Homo sapiens: one gene and its partner. The protein of the gene in region 1 purifies or fractionates together with the protein of each later gene. This does not show direct contact. Each region holds a gene or a part of one and is shown in the gene's direction. Other genes may lie near its edges.

Region 1 (3,746 bases):
CCCCCCCCCCACCCCAAGAGATCTGTGAAGTGTCTAGGGCAGAGCCTGGGTGGTGGGTGGGGCATGGAGACCCTACCGGTCCTTGTGTAGTTTCAGAAGCCTCTTCACATCTTCTCTGCCCTTGGGGACCGGGCCGGCCTTATCAAAGGCCTCCTTCAGGAGCTGGCTCTTCTCCAGGCCGAAGACATGACGGGGAGCAGGCCCTGTGGCAGCGGGTGGAGGAGGCAGTGGGAGCGGTGGGGGAACAGGGGTCTGCTGACTCCAGGGAGGGGATGGTAAAGCTGAAAAGTCCAGGGGACTTGGGGGTAGAGGAGGAGATGGAATGCTGCTGGCTTGGGGTACAGGGGTTTTTGGAGGAGAAATTGGTGGTTTTAGGGGAGGAGAGCATGGAGAAGTCATTTTGGGGTCTACAGGAGGTGTTGAGAGGTTCAGAAAGCGGGGAGGGAAGGATCCTCCAACGGAGAACGGTCTCAGGGATGGAGATTTTAAAGGTTTAAGAGCTGAGTTCCAGAATCTGGGGACTGAGCAGTGGGTGTGAAAGGACCAGGGCTAATATTTGAAACCACGGGAGCAGGAATTGCGAGGCTGACTCAAGTCATAAGGCACCTGACGGTTAACAGGGTGGGGTCCTTAAATCCGGAACCGGATCTGTGGTACCGGTTGGGTTACCTCGGGAGTCTTAGGTGGAGAGTTAGTAGGAGTTAACTCATTCTTTGGGGCTGGATGTGGAAACTCATGAGTGAGTTTGGGATATGAAGGCTCAGATCTAGAGTGAGGTGCCTTAAGGATGCGACTTAGGGACCCAGGGCTAAAGATTCGGAGAACTTAGGTTCAGTACCCCCTCACATCCCAGGCCCGAGTTCGGAACCTTTGAGCTGACCTTTGAGTCAGAGGTCAAGAGGTCAAAAAGGACACCTGGCAGGGAAAATGGCCTAGTTGTGGAGAAGGTCCTGGAACCAGAGCAACAAAAAACGTCTGTGGGTTGGAGAAGACTCAGAGATCAGAGGCCGGTGGGCGCCGCGATAACCACTGGAAAAAGGAAAGGAGTCAGGAAGTAAAGTGCACCTCCCACTCCCGGAAAATGGCGGCCCCCGCACACTGCCTTTCCCATATCACGTGGTATTACACGCAACAGTTCCCGCCCATTTTGCGATCACGTGACAGAAAACGCAGCTCTGGCGGGGGTAAGAGGCGGGACTCCAAAAAGGATTGCCTCCGGAAGACACCGCAGCGCGAGACGCGTACAGACTCGTGACCTTCACTGATTGGTCCGTAGACCCGGGCGCCACGGAAGGAGGTGGGCTTTCAGGGAGTGGGGCGGGGTTTTTCTACCTAGGCGGGAACCCAAATATCGTTTTGATTGGCAACAGCTGAGCCCAGAAACGAGACTTGCTCTGATTGGTCAAGCTACTGCGTTTCCGCGCGGCGATTGGCTGGCAGAAAGGCAGAGGCGGGGCCAGGAGAGAAAGCTTTGTGGTTTGGTCTCAGGGAAGTAGCAGGCGCCGGTTGAGAGAACTACGGCCCTGTCGGAAGGTAACCTCCGGTGCAAACGACCATCGGCGGCAGGCGAGCGGTACGCTTGGCGTCCGGGCCTTCCTGGGCCCGTCTGAGGAAACTTGCTGCTCGAGGCCAGGCTGCCTAGGACCTGTCCCTTTTTTCTATACTGGCTCCCACATCCGGGTTTTTTCTCCGGGACGGCCCTTCGGATGCTTGGGCCAATGGGAATCGCCATTTAGGGTGCTCCGCCCACCGGGTCGCGTAGAGCATCCTGGAAGTCGTAGTAAATCTCTCGAGAGTTCTCTCCGCACGCGGGCTGGAGAAGCGGGTCCTACGCACGCTTTGTTGTCGCGCTTTGCCTCCGTCCTTGCCCCTACTCCCGCCTTACCTGACTTCCTTTTCGGAGGAAGATCCTTGAGCAGCCGACGTTGGGACAAAGGATTTGGAGAAACCCAGGGCTAAAGTCACGTTTTTCCTCCTTTAAGACTTACCTCAACACTTCACTCCATGGCAGTTCCCGAGACCCGCCCTAACCACACTATTTATATCAACAACCTCAATGAGAAGATCAAGAAGGATGGTGAGTTCTCGGGATAGTCCGGAGTCCAGACTGTCCCGCACGGGCTGGCCCCTCTTCCGTCCCCTGCACCCGCCTCTCTTTCTAAGTGTTTGTCCAGCCAAACTTCGAGTTAACTCCTTGGCCTTTACACAAACTACTTCCTGTCTTCAACACTCCATTAGTTCATCTTACACTCTGCCCTTTAACGTGGTCACTGCTGCTCATCTTACAAGGTTTGAGGTCACAGGACCCTTCCTCCAGGAAGCCTTGCCTTGTCCCTTCACGTGGCTGCCGCTGACTTGCCGTACGCTGAGACCATCTCCCATCAAGCCCTGATTCCTCTGAGCTGTCGTGGGGCTCTCTCTCCTCCCAGTGGCCTTTGAACTCCGTGAGGGCAAGGACTGGGGCTTTCTTGGTCACCGGCTTTTTCAGTGATCAGCCCACAATGAACATGTACCATAATGGTGGCTAACGCTCTGTATCATGGGCTGGTCTGTGTGCTTTCATATAAATCTTGATAACATTTAATTCTCACAACAATCTTGTAGGAAGAAGGCTATTGTTATTCCCATTCGTCAACTAAGAAACTGGGGCCGGGCGCGGTGGCTCACCCCTGTAATCAATCCCAGCACTTTGGGAGGCCGAGGCGGGCGGATCACCTGAGGTCGGGAGTTCGAGACCAGCCTGACCGACATGGAGAAACCCTTTCTCTACTGAAAATACAAAATTAGCCGGGCATGGTGGCGCATGCCTATAATCCCAGCTACTCGGGAGGCTGAGGCAGGAGAATTGCTTGAACCCAGGAGACGGAGGTTGCAGTGAGCCGAGATTGCGCCATTGAACTACAGCCTGGGCAACAAGAGCGAAACTCCGTCTCAAAAAAAAAAGAAAGAAAAGAAAAAGAAACTGAGACAGGGGTGATGTGACTTGCCCAGGGTCACATAGCAAGTAAAGTGGTTGAGGCCACCCGTATAGAATTCTGCTTAGGAACCCAATTTTTGGCCGGGCGTGGTGGTTCAGGCCTGTAAGCCCAACACTTTGGGAGGCTGAGGCAGGAGGATCACTGAAACACAGGAGTTCAAGATCAGCCTAGGCGACAAAGCCAGACCTTTTCTCTACAAAAAAAAAAAAAAAAAAAAAAAAGGCTGGGCGTGGGTGGGGTGCGTCTGTGGTCCCAGCTACTTGGGAGGCTGAAGTGGGAGGATCGCTTGAGCTAGAGAGGTTGAGGCTGCAGTGAGCTATGATTGCACCACTGCACTGCTGCCTGGGCTGAGCAAGAACCTATCTGAAAAAAGGAAAAAAAAAAAGAACTCAATTATTGAAATCGGAAAGACTCTCTCACATTCTCAAGTAAATTATCACCTTTATTGAACCTCATTTTCCAGATCTAAAAACTGAGCAAAATCATAATACCTTTTTTGCATGGATGTTGGGGGAGATTAAATTAGCTAAACCTTGCAGTATTTCTTTTTTATGGTAACTGGCAGCTAGTAAAGGGCTGGATAAATGTTAGCTCTTATCACTTCAAGAAAATTATCGGGAGAACCGAAGGAGCTTGTTGGGATTCAGTTTGAGGTTACCAGTGAAGTTGCTGTTGAAGAAAGCAAAACCAGCAGCCGGGCACTGGCTCACGCCTGTAATCTCAGCACTTTGGGAGGCTGAGGTGGGCAGATCATTTGAGGTCAGGAGT
Region 2 (3,746 bases), on another chromosome or scaffold:
AAATGCTGGGATTACAGGCATGAGCTCGCGCACCTGGCTGAAATTTTTTTTTTTTTTTCTTTGAGACAGAGTCTTGCTCTGTCACCCAGGCTGGAGTGCAGTGGCGCGATCTCGGCTCACTGCAACCTCTGCCTCCCAGATTCAAGCAATTCTCCTGCCTCAGCCTCCTGAGTAGATGGGACTACAGGCGCCTACCACTACGCCCAGCTAATTTTTGTATTTTTAATAGAGACGGGGTTTCACCATATTGGCCAGGCTGGTCTCAAACTCCTGACCTTGTGATCTGCCTGCCTCAGCCTCCCAAAGTGCTGGGATTTACAGGCATGAGCCACTGTGCCCAGCCCTGGCTGAAATTTTTTAAAGGAAATAGTTATCCCATGCATTTGCCAGCTTTGTGTAGTTTATTTATTTATTTATTCTTATTTATTTTTTTGAGACGGAGTCTCGCTCCGTCACCAAGGCTGGAGTGCAGTGGCATGATCTCGGCTCACTGCAACCTCTGCCTCCTGGGTTCAAGTGATTCTCCTGTCTCAGTCTCCCAAGTAGCTGGGATTACAGGCATGTGCTACCATGCATGGCTAATTTTTGTATTTTTAGTAGAGACAAGGTTTCACCATGTTGCCCAGGCTGGTCTCGAACTCCTGACCTCAGTTGATCCACCTGCCTCGGCCTCCCAAAATGCTGGGATTACAGGCGTGAGCCTGGCCGCTTTGTGTAGTTTAAAAATCACTTTCAACTCAACCCCTTTCTGAAGTCGTTATTACTATTATCCCCATTAAACAGAAGCCCTCAGAAAAGCTAATTTTGATTCTGCCATTTGCCCTAATCCGTGTTCCCTTAGGCAAGTCCTTTCAAAAGTCTAAACTTCAGTTTCCTCCTCTATAACATGTGTATGCCAATTAAGTGAAATCTCTGCCAGGCCACAAGCCATGACACAATGGAAAGGTAGGTGGACTTTGGGGTCAGGCACACCTACAAATTCCAGCTGCTCCACTTAGTAGCTGTGTTATCCAGGGAAGGACATGTTCTGACACTGGCTGACGCCTAACTGTGTGCACACATAGACAATTATTTCATTGAATCTTTAAGCCCCTGAGTAAAGTTAATCTTTACTATAATCTCCGTTTTGGAAACTAAGCCAAGACATGGCGAGGCTGAGTAATTTATCCTTGGTCACCAACTCTAAAAGAGCTGGATTTGCGCCCAGCATGTGGATTTCAGCGTCTTCCTGGTAAATCGCCACCCTCAGTTGCCACCTGAACAGTAACTCTCCACGAAATGGATGAGAATTGAATCCGTAACTGGAGGGAACCAGGCGTCTGGCTTTGGAATGCAGACCGCCTCTGGCCGACTGCCAGAGGTGGGAGGCCTGAAGTTTGGGCTCCTTGCCGCCCTACCCTTTCCACCACAACGCTGCTATCAAGCCTAAACTCCAGCAAAATAGGCTTTAGGAAAGGCACGAAATTAACTCATTTTACACATAGAGATACACACTGGGACGATTTTGGCTTTTCAAGCTAACTCAGAAAATGGAGATACAGGCCGGGCGCGGTGGCTTACGCCTGTAATCCCAGCACTTTGGGAGGCCGAGGCGGGCGGATCATGAGGTCAGGAGATCGAGACCATCCTGGCCAACATGGTGAAACCCCGTCTCTACTAAAAACACAAAAAATTAGTCGGACGTGGTGGCAGGCGCCTGTAGTCCCAGCTACTCGGGAGGCTGAGGCAGGAGAATCGCTTGAACCCTGGAGGCTGAGGTTGCAGTGAGCTGAAATCGCGCCACTGCACTCCAGCCTGGGCGACAGAGCGAGACTTCGCCTCAAAAAAAAAAAAAGAAAAGAAATTGGAGACAGGACGGCACTCCTCCTACCACGGCCACTATACAACCGAAGGCACCTCCTCCCGCCTCCCTCCAGGTGGCGCTGTAGGACCGGCCCACCTTCCACAGCGCAGACGCCTCAGTTTGGCCTCCCTCGGAGGCCATGCAGCGAAGAAACGTGACTTCATGGCTAGAGGGGCATTTCCCAGGAGCCGCCCATGCCGCCGCGTGACCTTCACACTTCCGCTTCCGGTTCTTTATTCCGGAAGTTGCTCTCAGAGGCAGCGTGCGGGTGTGCTCTTTGTGAAATTCCACCATGGCGTACCGTGGCCAGGGTCAGAAAGTGCAGAAGGTTATGGTGCAGCCCATCGTATCCTACGCAGGATGTCAGGACTAGGAGGTTCGGGTCAGAATACGGGGTGCGAAGGCGCAGGCTGAGGGCAGGCCTGGGATAGTGGAGTACGGATCCACATCCCATGAGCCCCCGGGGCTACCAAGACTGGAAGAAAGCGCGGGTAGTTGAACCGTGATGGTGGGGAGGTGGTCTTGGGGGGACCCCTGCCGTGGGGAATGCAGGAATGGACGCGGCAAAAGGAGGGAAGAGAACTTCAGGTGCGGAGTGAAAACGGGAGTTAACGGTTTTGGGAAACTCCAGGGGGATGAAAGTGGAATGGATGTTCTTTAGTCTTTAGAAGACCCGTAACGAATGCCCAGCTGGGCACTTGTTGTTTGCGTAAGCACCAGACCTCGCGTTTAGTAAACAAAGGTGAGACGGGAATAGCGTCGTCCGGTTGTTTCAGGAAGCAGAGTCTATGCTGCTTTTGTATTTTTTCCTTAGCCACTGTGGTGCAGAACCTCATCTTCAGATACTTACAAAATGTACGTAAGTTGCTTGTTTCGTAACTACTTTTTAAATAAGAGGTGAACTGATTTAGTTTTTTGTGTTAACCTGAGCGATCGCTGTGTTCTAGAATTTAAAAATAGATGTAACTGGAGATTGGAGGGTAATTGAGGGGAAGGAGTACTTAGAAAGCACTAATGTGATGAAGTGGTGTGTATCCATGCCACTTCCCAACATGCAAAGAATTGTATCCATTACTTTGCAAGATCAAAAATACTTTTTAATTCCAAAAAGTATTATTAGCAGACTTGACCATGGTATTTGGGCATCAGTAGTTTTGTTAGTAGTGATTATGGCTAGAACATTGGAACCTCTCCCCTTTAGGATGAAACATTGGAAGAAAAACCCAGCCAACTTAAACCATGTCAAGAGGTGGTGTGTTTAATACCTGTGGGAAAACTTAAAGACGAAAAAAGGAAGAGAGAAGGGGTAGCTTCAGAGGAGTTTAGTGGCAGCTGCTTTCCTTTGAGGGAAATTTTAGCAACTTAAATTTTATAGTGTGATAACACAACTGAAAAACATTAATTTCAGGTGATAATAATTCTTAACCACCTGAATTGAGGGCTCCTGTCCTAGTTGTTAGGTGTGTGACATGAGAAGGCTTTGTTTTGGAACTGGATTTTGCTGCAGGAGATAAGCCCTTGGTCATTAGAAATTACTGCTTTGTGCTATGCTGTCAAAAACTTTCACTCTTAATAGATTGAGACCAGAAGCAGTAAGAAATATTGAGTCCCAAAATCACAGGAAAATTATTAGCTTATACAGTTCCAATATAGAACTTATTAAATGAAAATTCTTTTTGAGGTTATTATTATTGGTGAATAATTCTTAGATATGGGCTAATTAGTTAAAACTTTTGACTTACATTCATTACAATTTTTTTAGGAGCCATATTTCTCTTGTCGTTTGACCAAAATGGTTAGGTTTTGTATACTTCAATTTTTTGGGGGGCGGGGGGCGGGGAGATCTTGCTTAATGTTGCGCAGGCTTATATTGAACACCTGGCCACAAAGCGAATTATTCCGC

What was found. Proteins that work in one complex are often made in the same cells at the same time.
Region 2: the proteins of SNRPA (region 1) and SNRPE purify together in Homo sapiens (co-immunoprecipitation; 5 studies listed by BioGRID and IntAct, with this or other methods). This does not show direct contact.

The regions. Positions count from the first base shown.
Region 1 is NC_000019.10:40,749,405-40,753,150, forward strand, and holds the start of SNRPA (U1 small nuclear ribonucleoprotein A), read left to right. Parts: upstream 1-1,798; 5' UTR 1,799-2,004; coding exon 2,005-2,077; intron 2,078-3,746. Other genes in the region: ACTMAP (actin maturation protease), read right to left, coding at 77-399. UniProt on the Homo sapiens protein: Component of the spliceosomal U1 snRNP, which is essential for recognition of the pre-mRNA 5' splice-site and the subsequent assembly of the spliceosome. U1 snRNP is the first snRNP to interact with pre-mRNA.
Region 2 is NC_000001.11:203,859,525-203,863,270, forward strand, and holds the start of SNRPE (small nuclear ribonucleoprotein E), read left to right. Parts: upstream 1-2,074; 5' UTR 2,075-2,135; coding exon 2,136-2,189; exon of another isoform or gene 2,190-2,203; coding exon of another isoform or gene 2,204-2,219; intron 2,220-2,322; exon of another isoform or gene 2,323-2,389; coding exon of another isoform or gene 2,390-2,431; intron 2,432-2,657; coding exon of another isoform or gene 2,658-2,671; coding exon 2,672-2,698; intron 2,699-3,746. UniProt on the Homo sapiens protein: Plays a role in pre-mRNA splicing as a core component of the spliceosomal U1, U2, U4 and U5 small nuclear ribonucleoproteins (snRNPs), the building blocks of the spliceosome.